2 linked regions of the Homo sapiens genome follow. The protein of the gene in region 2 interacts with the protein of the main gene of each other region in a pairwise test. Each region holds a gene or a part of one and is shown on either strand. Other genes may lie near its edges. The genes, in order: ASAP2 and THSD7A.

What was found.
Region 1: the proteins of THSD7A (region 2) and ASAP2 interact in a two-hybrid assay, tested with the Homo sapiens proteins (one study listed by BioGRID and IntAct).

What each region holds. Positions count from the first base shown.
Region 1 is NC_000002.12:9,204,211-9,208,128, reverse strand, and holds the start of ASAP2 (arf-GAP with SH3 domain, ANK repeat and PH domain-containing protein 2), read right to left. Parts: upstream 1,318-3,918; 5' UTR 1,025-1,317; coding exon 899-1,024; coding exon of another isoform or gene 866-898; intron 1-865. UniProt on the Homo sapiens protein: Activates the small GTPases ARF1, ARF5 and ARF6. Regulates the formation of post-Golgi vesicles and modulates constitutive secretion. Modulates phagocytosis mediated by Fc gamma receptor and ARF6. Modulates PXN recruitment to focal contacts and cell migration.
Region 2 is NC_000007.14:11,370,281-11,374,198, forward strand, and holds the end of THSD7A (thrombospondin type-1 domain-containing protein 7A precursor), read right to left. Parts: 3' UTR 85-3,918; downstream 1-84.

The sequences.
Region 1 (3,918 bases), on a different chromosome or scaffold from region 2:
GTAAGGAAAAGGAGGACTGCAGGTGAGGATGTGCCTCAAACCACAGCCAACGGTGGCCCCTGGACTCACAGACTCTGCCCCTTTCCCCACGGCTTTAATTTTCAACCAAGCTTCTTCGTTCCTACGTGTTCCTCTCCCCAGGACCTGGAGAGCGTACTGCTTAGCAGCTAGGCGTGATGACTTTGCACCTTGAGAGCACTTTACTAAAACCAGGCCTTTTCCAGGTTGAGGGGGAAGGGCGGCATTCCGGGTTCAAGCAGGTGAGACCCAGGTAACCGGGGAGCGGCTCCTGGAGGCTTCTTGGACCCAGAAGCGCCGACTCTCACACACCTTGCCCGCAGTTCCTTCTCCGGGCACGGGTGGAGCGCAGCCAGGCCGCCCTGGCTGAGGCGGGCACGCCTTCCCGGGCAGCCCGGGATGCCCCGGACCCGCGGACCCGAGGGTGGGGGCCCTGCGGCGCTCGGGGGCTGCGGCGGGGAGCTCGGAGCGCGGAGCTGCCCCCGCCGGTCCACTTCAAGAACAAGTTGATAAGGTCCGCACCGGGTACCAAAGACCCCGGGCGGCGGCGGGCGGCGGCGGGCAGCGGGATCCCCCGCTCGCCGCGGACCCCGACTCTGGACAAAGTTGGCCGCGCTGCGGGGAAAAGACCAGGCCGCGGAACCCCGCGAGGGCCACGAGGCCGAGAGAGGGGAGGTCTTAAAGAGGCCCAAGGTGGCCATCACCCATCTCCTCCGAGCCACCTAGGCGGGAACAAAGGGCTTCTGTCTCGGGCAGGGTTGGCCCGGCCGCGTCCGGCTTCGGAGCAAAGAAAGTTTTCTCGGGATGCGGATGCGGGAGCGGCGGGCGGGGCTGGGGCGCGGGATACCTGCGGCCGGAGCCGCCGCGCAGGCCGCCTCACCTCCTCGATGGCCGCCACAGTGTTCCGGCACTGCGCCGTGCGGGTGGTGAAGCTGGAGGCCGTGGGCGCCTTGTAGTCCTCATGGGTCTCGGCCACGAATTCCGACACGGAGATCTGGTCCGGCATCGCCTCGGCGCGAGGGCGCTGGCGCACAGCCGCAGGGGCGCCGCCGCCTCAACTGCCGCAGCAGGCTCCGACCGCCGCTCGGACACCGCCGCTGCCGCCGCCGCTCCGGCCCGCGGACAAAGGGGAGCGCCGGGCGCGGGAGCCGCGCGGGGCCTGGCGGCGGAGCAGGGGCGGCGCGCAGCCCCGCGCAGCTCGGCCGGTCCGCCCGCCTGCGCGCCGAGGGCTCCGAGTCCGCTGCCGCCGCGTCCTCTCAGAGCGAGCCCCGAGGCGGGCGCGCACAGCCGGCGGGAACTACCCGCCACCCAGCCGCGGGCCCCGACGCCTCCCGCGGAGAGGGGCGGGTCCGGGCCGGGGGCGGCGGCCGGCCGGGCGTGGGGCGGGGCGGCGGGAGGACCGGGCCGCCAATCGGCGCGCTCGCCGCTGCCGCGCCGCCGGGAAGCGGATCCCGCAGGAAGGAAGGCGGCGCGCGCCCCGGCCCGCCGAGCCGTTCCTGGCCGCCGCGCGCCGCATTGTCTCGGCGTTCCGGGCCCCGCGCGCCGCGCCCATGCCCCGCCCCCAGCCGGCCCGAGGCCCCGACTCCGACCCGCTGCCCGCGAGGGTGCGTGTGGAGGTGCGCCCCGCCGGAGTCCGGCCTTGTGCGCGCCAACCGCCCCCCGCCCACGGCGCGGAGCACCTCTGGGCTCCCCACTTGAACGGCGGGCCGCGCCGGCCCATGAGGAAAGCGGGGTGCGGAGCTCGCCCCCTGCCGGAGGATGCGCTCCGCCGGCGGGCACCCTGCGGGGACCACAGCCGGACGCCAGAAGTGACCTGACCGTGAATGTGCGCTTTGCGTGCAGTCATTGCATCGTCGCAGGCCTAGGAGACAGATGAAGAGATGGGTGCTTATTTTATATAGGGGACACAGTGTGCCCAAGAGCACAAGATAAACGGCCGGGTGGGGATTCAAACCCATGTTCCCTGACTCAAGTGTGAGTGCTTCAGAGCGGTGAGGGGCCCCTACTAAAAGTCCCAGTCGCGTTTCCTAGGCTGCCCAATGATAGGTATTCTCGGTTATAGTTTTAGGGTACTAGGCCAGGACCCACCCTGGGAAGGCTGCTGAACGCCCTGAAGTGGTATTCCCGCAGGCAGAGGAGGGAACCGAGGGGGTGCAGGAGGAGGAGGAGGGGGAGAACGTGCTACAGCAGCCAGCCAACCTCACACAAAACCGGGCCAGTAAAGGGTTCGAACTGGTACCGATTTTTATTTACAGCTCTTAAGGAAATTCTCGGTTATACTGAAAAATCCAGAAGCTCTGAAGATACCAGTCAAATAAAATCACACCCTATAACTCTACACCAGACTTGTGGCATGGTTTCTGTAGCTGCCAGCGGTAAAACCAAGAGAAACTTTACAAAAACCTTTTGTGCATCTGAAAAGGAGGAAGTGTGAGAGACACTGGAAATTCAATATGTCAGACAAAGCCGTCTCCTGACACTGCAGGACAGTAGACCAGTCAAACAATCTTTTTAAAGCCCCCATGTAAGAAGTTGCTATATGAGGTGGCAGCTTGGGTCAGACATTATGTATGGCCTTTGGTATTTTAGTAGCACTGCATGTAAAATTTAACTTTCTAAAATCGCTGTATTCGTGGATAGCTTTTATCATTGCACTAGACAACAAGTTACAATTTAAAAATTGTATCTGTTTCTTTTTATGTTTTTTGATCCTTTTGGTGTCTGAAGTTTTCCTCTATTTGCAACCTTCTACAATTCATGTTTTGTGTTTATTATTTATATTAATACATCCTCTCCAACACCAGGCAGATTCTGTTCCCGCCTACCTAGTTTCCCAGCTACAGTTTTTGACATGAGGGAATATGCTGAATAACTTTTCAAGTCTTGATTTGTAGAGGGCTGGTCTCTATGAGGCTATGAGGGATCTAAGAAAGAAAGTCGGGTTTTTCCTTGATGTCTAGTACAGCATTAACCAGACTAATCAATACTTCTACAAGGACAAAGTTAAGCTTGGTATTCTCTGTTCTCTCTTTATATACAACTCCGGTTCTTGTTTCTTTTAGTTTAATTTTGCAGATACAGGAAGCTTTAGTAGCCTCAAAAAAATAAAATTGCAAAGCTGTGTTGCATTGCAAGGCTGGTGGAAAACAACAATTAGTTACCAAGTTCATTGGTGGCCTAAAGAGGATACCAAATTGGTAGAATGCTAGAGCCATTTATTCCTCCATCATCCCTTAGAAATCTAACTTGCCTACTGCATAAGCCTAGAATTAAAGCAAGACCAGAGCAAAACATAGCTAATGCCTTTCTGAGATTAATATAAGAATGAGTAGCTTCCAATAAATAACAATAAAATTAAAGTTCAACATGGATCAAGGAAACACTCTACACATACTCATTTTTTTAAATGCATCAAGAGAAGAAGAGTATGCTGGTAATGTCCTTACAGGCCTATACTTCCTTAACCAGAATTACTAAAAATCCCTGAAAATGTAGCTTTACAAATAGTTCTTAATAGTAAAATTCATCTGAAATGAACTGATGTGAGGCTATGTGTGGTCTTGTTTATCCTACCTCATGTGAATATGTATGTTTTGCTGCAAAATATAAACATGGTTGATTATGAAGTATTGCCCCAGACCCTACTGGGGGTAATTAGGAATATGTTATTATATGCAATGTGTTACCTTTCTAAAATCCGAAAATTTCTGAATCCACACATATCTGGCCCTTGGGGTTTCAGTAAGAGATTGTAGGCCTGTATTATTTTTTTTTAAAAAAAAAGGCGAAGAAAAAGGAGGAAGGAAGAAGGAGAAGGAAAGGAAGAGGAAAAGGAGAGAACGAAAACGTGATGTTAAAGACATCGTTTCCAGAGAAGAGACTCTCCTCCCAAAAATGAAA
Region 2 (3,918 bases):
AAGTTTGCATTTCTTGAACTTTCTAAATTGGAGTTGTTATACAACCCAGGAAAGGGCAATACAGTAGGTAAAAGGATTTAGGTATTCACTGGAAAAAAATTTTAATCCATATTTAAGAAGCAATTGGTGCAAATCAAAACACAGATACACATGATTAGAATGAAAATGATTTCCGTATTTATGTTTGTCAGCAATATAGTTATTTACAAATAACCCATATGAAAATGTAAAAAAGCATATTACATCTTCACATGCCATCTGTATTGACTGAATAAAGCTTAGTGACATTATTTGCAAATCTGTAGTTAATTGTACATAGACATTTTGTGCGTTAAAAAGGAAATGTACATAATGTAAAATAAATTACATTACGCAATTTACAAAGTAATATTAACAAAAATTCTTAGACAGCTGCCTCCTTATTTAAACAAAATAAATATTCAGGTAGTTAAATTAACATAAAATACACATTTAGGGAATAATAATTTATAGAAAGACAGATTGCAAATTTTAATAAAGTTATATTTTACAATGATAGATACTGATCTCTTCAAATCTGTGTGATAGAAATGGAGAAAAAAAGTACCAGAAAAGGAATCTAAATGTTTACTTTCTAAAAATAAACACAAACAGATTTCTGAAAAATAGGGAAAAGTTTACTTGAGGGTTAAAAGTAGGTAATCTAGAAACTATGGCTTAAAAACAATAAATCTACAAAACACAACAAGACTGACAATTATATTCTAAATAATATAGAGATTTTTGATCACTGAAAACATGACTCCCACAAACTAAAGCTCTTCATATACTGCCCATTTTTAAGATCTGACTTGGTAGAAACACAGAAAAATAAAAATGCAAAATTAACTGTTTAGCATTAGTTTCATTCATTTAATAATGTAGACATAACCATTTTTCATTGTCCCTGCTAGATATAAAATTATTATAACACACTGCAAACCATCCTTTTTATAAATGGATAACTATTTGCTTGGCTCACACACCAGTTTCTGATACCTGAAATCCTGTCCTGCAGCCAGGGCCACCTGAGGGCAGGACCTGGGGAGACCCTTATTCCCAGAACAAGCAGATGTAGTTCTCACAACTAAACTAGTCCCAGGAAAGATCACATTCTGACAAGATTCCTCACAGATTTGCTCAAGGACTACTGTTTTTTCAACACCCTCAATCTTACAGTGGAAATAGAAGAAGAACCCACACTTGAATTTGGTAATATATTTATAAACAGGAGATCCCAGATCATTTGGGAATTGTGCTTCTCATGTACTATTGAGACCCACGTCAGCTTTAGAACAGGCTCTCCCTTCTGTATGGTACTGAAAAGTACAGTCCTCCCTCACTGTCTTGTGGTGTGGAATGTGAACAAAGACTCGAGATGGAGGCAGGAGGATATGGGATGGTCTAAAGCAAGTGTAGGCATGGACATTTTTACAGAAAAGGGCTTTTTTTTTTTTTTTTTTCCTGCATGCCTTCCACATTTTTCCTTTTCCCTTTATTCATTTCTTTGACCAGTGGATTTGGTGTAAATCAGGATGTTCACACTCTGAGTGAGTGACACTTTGATTCTAATAGGGAAGGAAATATAGGAATTCTTTTTTTTTTAATTAAAAAATTGGGCATGTTTAGTGGGAAGTAGGTAAGAATAGCTGTCAAGAGTAGAAAGAGACCAAGCAGAGAAAATCAGAAAGGGCCAAGGATACAGGTTGTTGGGGGAGGTAAATAAGTGTGTGAGAGGTCTATTCAATTTCTGTGAGAAGGAAGACGTGAATTTACCTTGAAATGCCCAGGAACTTAACAGGGGTCTGATTAAGCTACAATGACCACTGCCACCTACCTGAGGGTGGGGCAGGGAAAAATCAAACTCCTAATACTGTGGCCTAAAGACATGTACATTACGTAGGGGAAAATACTAACCCCATCTAAAAACAAACCTAGAGTAAAAGTCAACATGTTTCAGTGCTATCTTCACTCATTAAGCATTTTTTCCTTCTTTTGGATGTCTGTCTTAAGTACCTATGTATACAAAAGCCATTACTTTTTTTTTTTTTTTTACAATGCCTAGCAGAATGTCTTATATGTCAATAAATATTTGCCTTGTTAGAAGTAATTTGTGCTTTGTTATAAGTAATTAAAAACAAGCTTTTATGCACTCTTTTTAAATTCACTTAAGCTACACCGTAGTATCCTCAAAAAAGGCTTTGAAATTAAGATTACTGTCCACATATTGGATTAGTTATTGATGAATAAGCAAATCAGCCCCTTTCAAAAGAGATCAGTTAGTCCTATTCTACGTGGTTTCTAGTGAAATAGTCCAGCAAAATCATATAATACTGTGTCAAACTTTTTCTGCTCTTCTTTTTTTAAAAACCAAACAACAGACCTTCATTCTAGGGAACAGCAGTTCTACATCTTTTACCCCCTCGGTGAGGTAAAAGTGTCAATAGAGAAGTTACTACTATATTCCCCTCCCAAATTTTTAGAAGGAACAGTAAAAATAAGGTTTTGATGAAATTCCAATAAAATATTTAACTCATTATTGTCTCATGTCAGAAACAAAAATAAGGCCATTTTCATGTTATAAACATGAATATAATAACCTTCCCTTTGTCCAAAATAGCCAGATTGCTACGTTCTCCTCTTTCCACCTTTCTAACGAGGTTATCCAGTATTTATTTATCCTAACAAACAGTGACCTTCCAATATGTTCTCTAATATTAGGTCATGTTGAACCTAATTTCCTCTCTCTCATATATATGGGTGTGTGTGTGTGTGTGTGTATATATATATATGCATGCATATATGCTGTAAAATCTAATTAATTTATGAATAAAATGTATTTTTCATAACATTCTATAATTTTGATTTGCTAATTTAATTCTTATAGGTAGGATGATACTAATCTTTTCTGAATTAATGACATTTTACAATACCTTAAATATAGCTTTAGTAGGTATTCTATCCCACATTTCAAAATTAATAGGTGTTGCACACATTTCATAAGAGGGTTAGCTGAATTTTTCAAGTAACCACAATAGAGTCTTTCTTAACTATTTTGGACAAATGGAGTTTATTTTATTCAAAGAGATCAACTTTAGGATTATCTGGAAGACCCCTGATTATATATATTGACAATCACAGTTTTAAAGTAACAATATTATTTTTTCTTCCTCTTTAATAAAACAGATAAAATGGACTTTGTTTTTATGGTTTTCTTTGTTTAAATCCTTGCTTTAAAGTAAAATTTTCATCTTCCTGACTACCTGTTCTCTTTGAAATGATTTACATTTCCTAATATAGTGAATATTGAATGAGGAATTAGCGCTTACTGCATTTAGTTCTTATTGAAATACATACAAATATTTTCATTTTGGGGACAATGACATCCTAACCTGATGTCTTTTGTAATCTTTGCAAATACTCTAATGAACAGCAGGGGGAGTTCATACTCCAGTATGAAGGTAAAAATACCTTCTAATCCAAAACACTTTTACAGGAACACAGCTGTTTAAGATAAAATAGCATGTTAGTTATATTATTTTTCAAATATCCTGAAAAGCTAGTGTCCTCTCTCACAAAGGTTGTTGCAATAATGTTGCCTGAAAATGGTATTGCTTTTTAATGGCACCTTTTGAGTTTTCTTTTCATTTGCAAGAAGTCTGCTGAGTTAGTTAAATATTGTTCCACTGTGCCATTCCCAGGGCTACATCTGTAGAAAATACAGCTACTTCTGATACAGTGGGAAATGTAATGACTGTAAATTCTCACCTTTGAAAAATGAATGAAAACGAAAGATGACACCATGGAGAGCTAGCATTAAAAAACATCCAGACCAGGGGTCAGCAAAATATGACCTGCAAAGGTGGCCTACTGGCTGTTTTTGTAAGGGAAGTTATATAG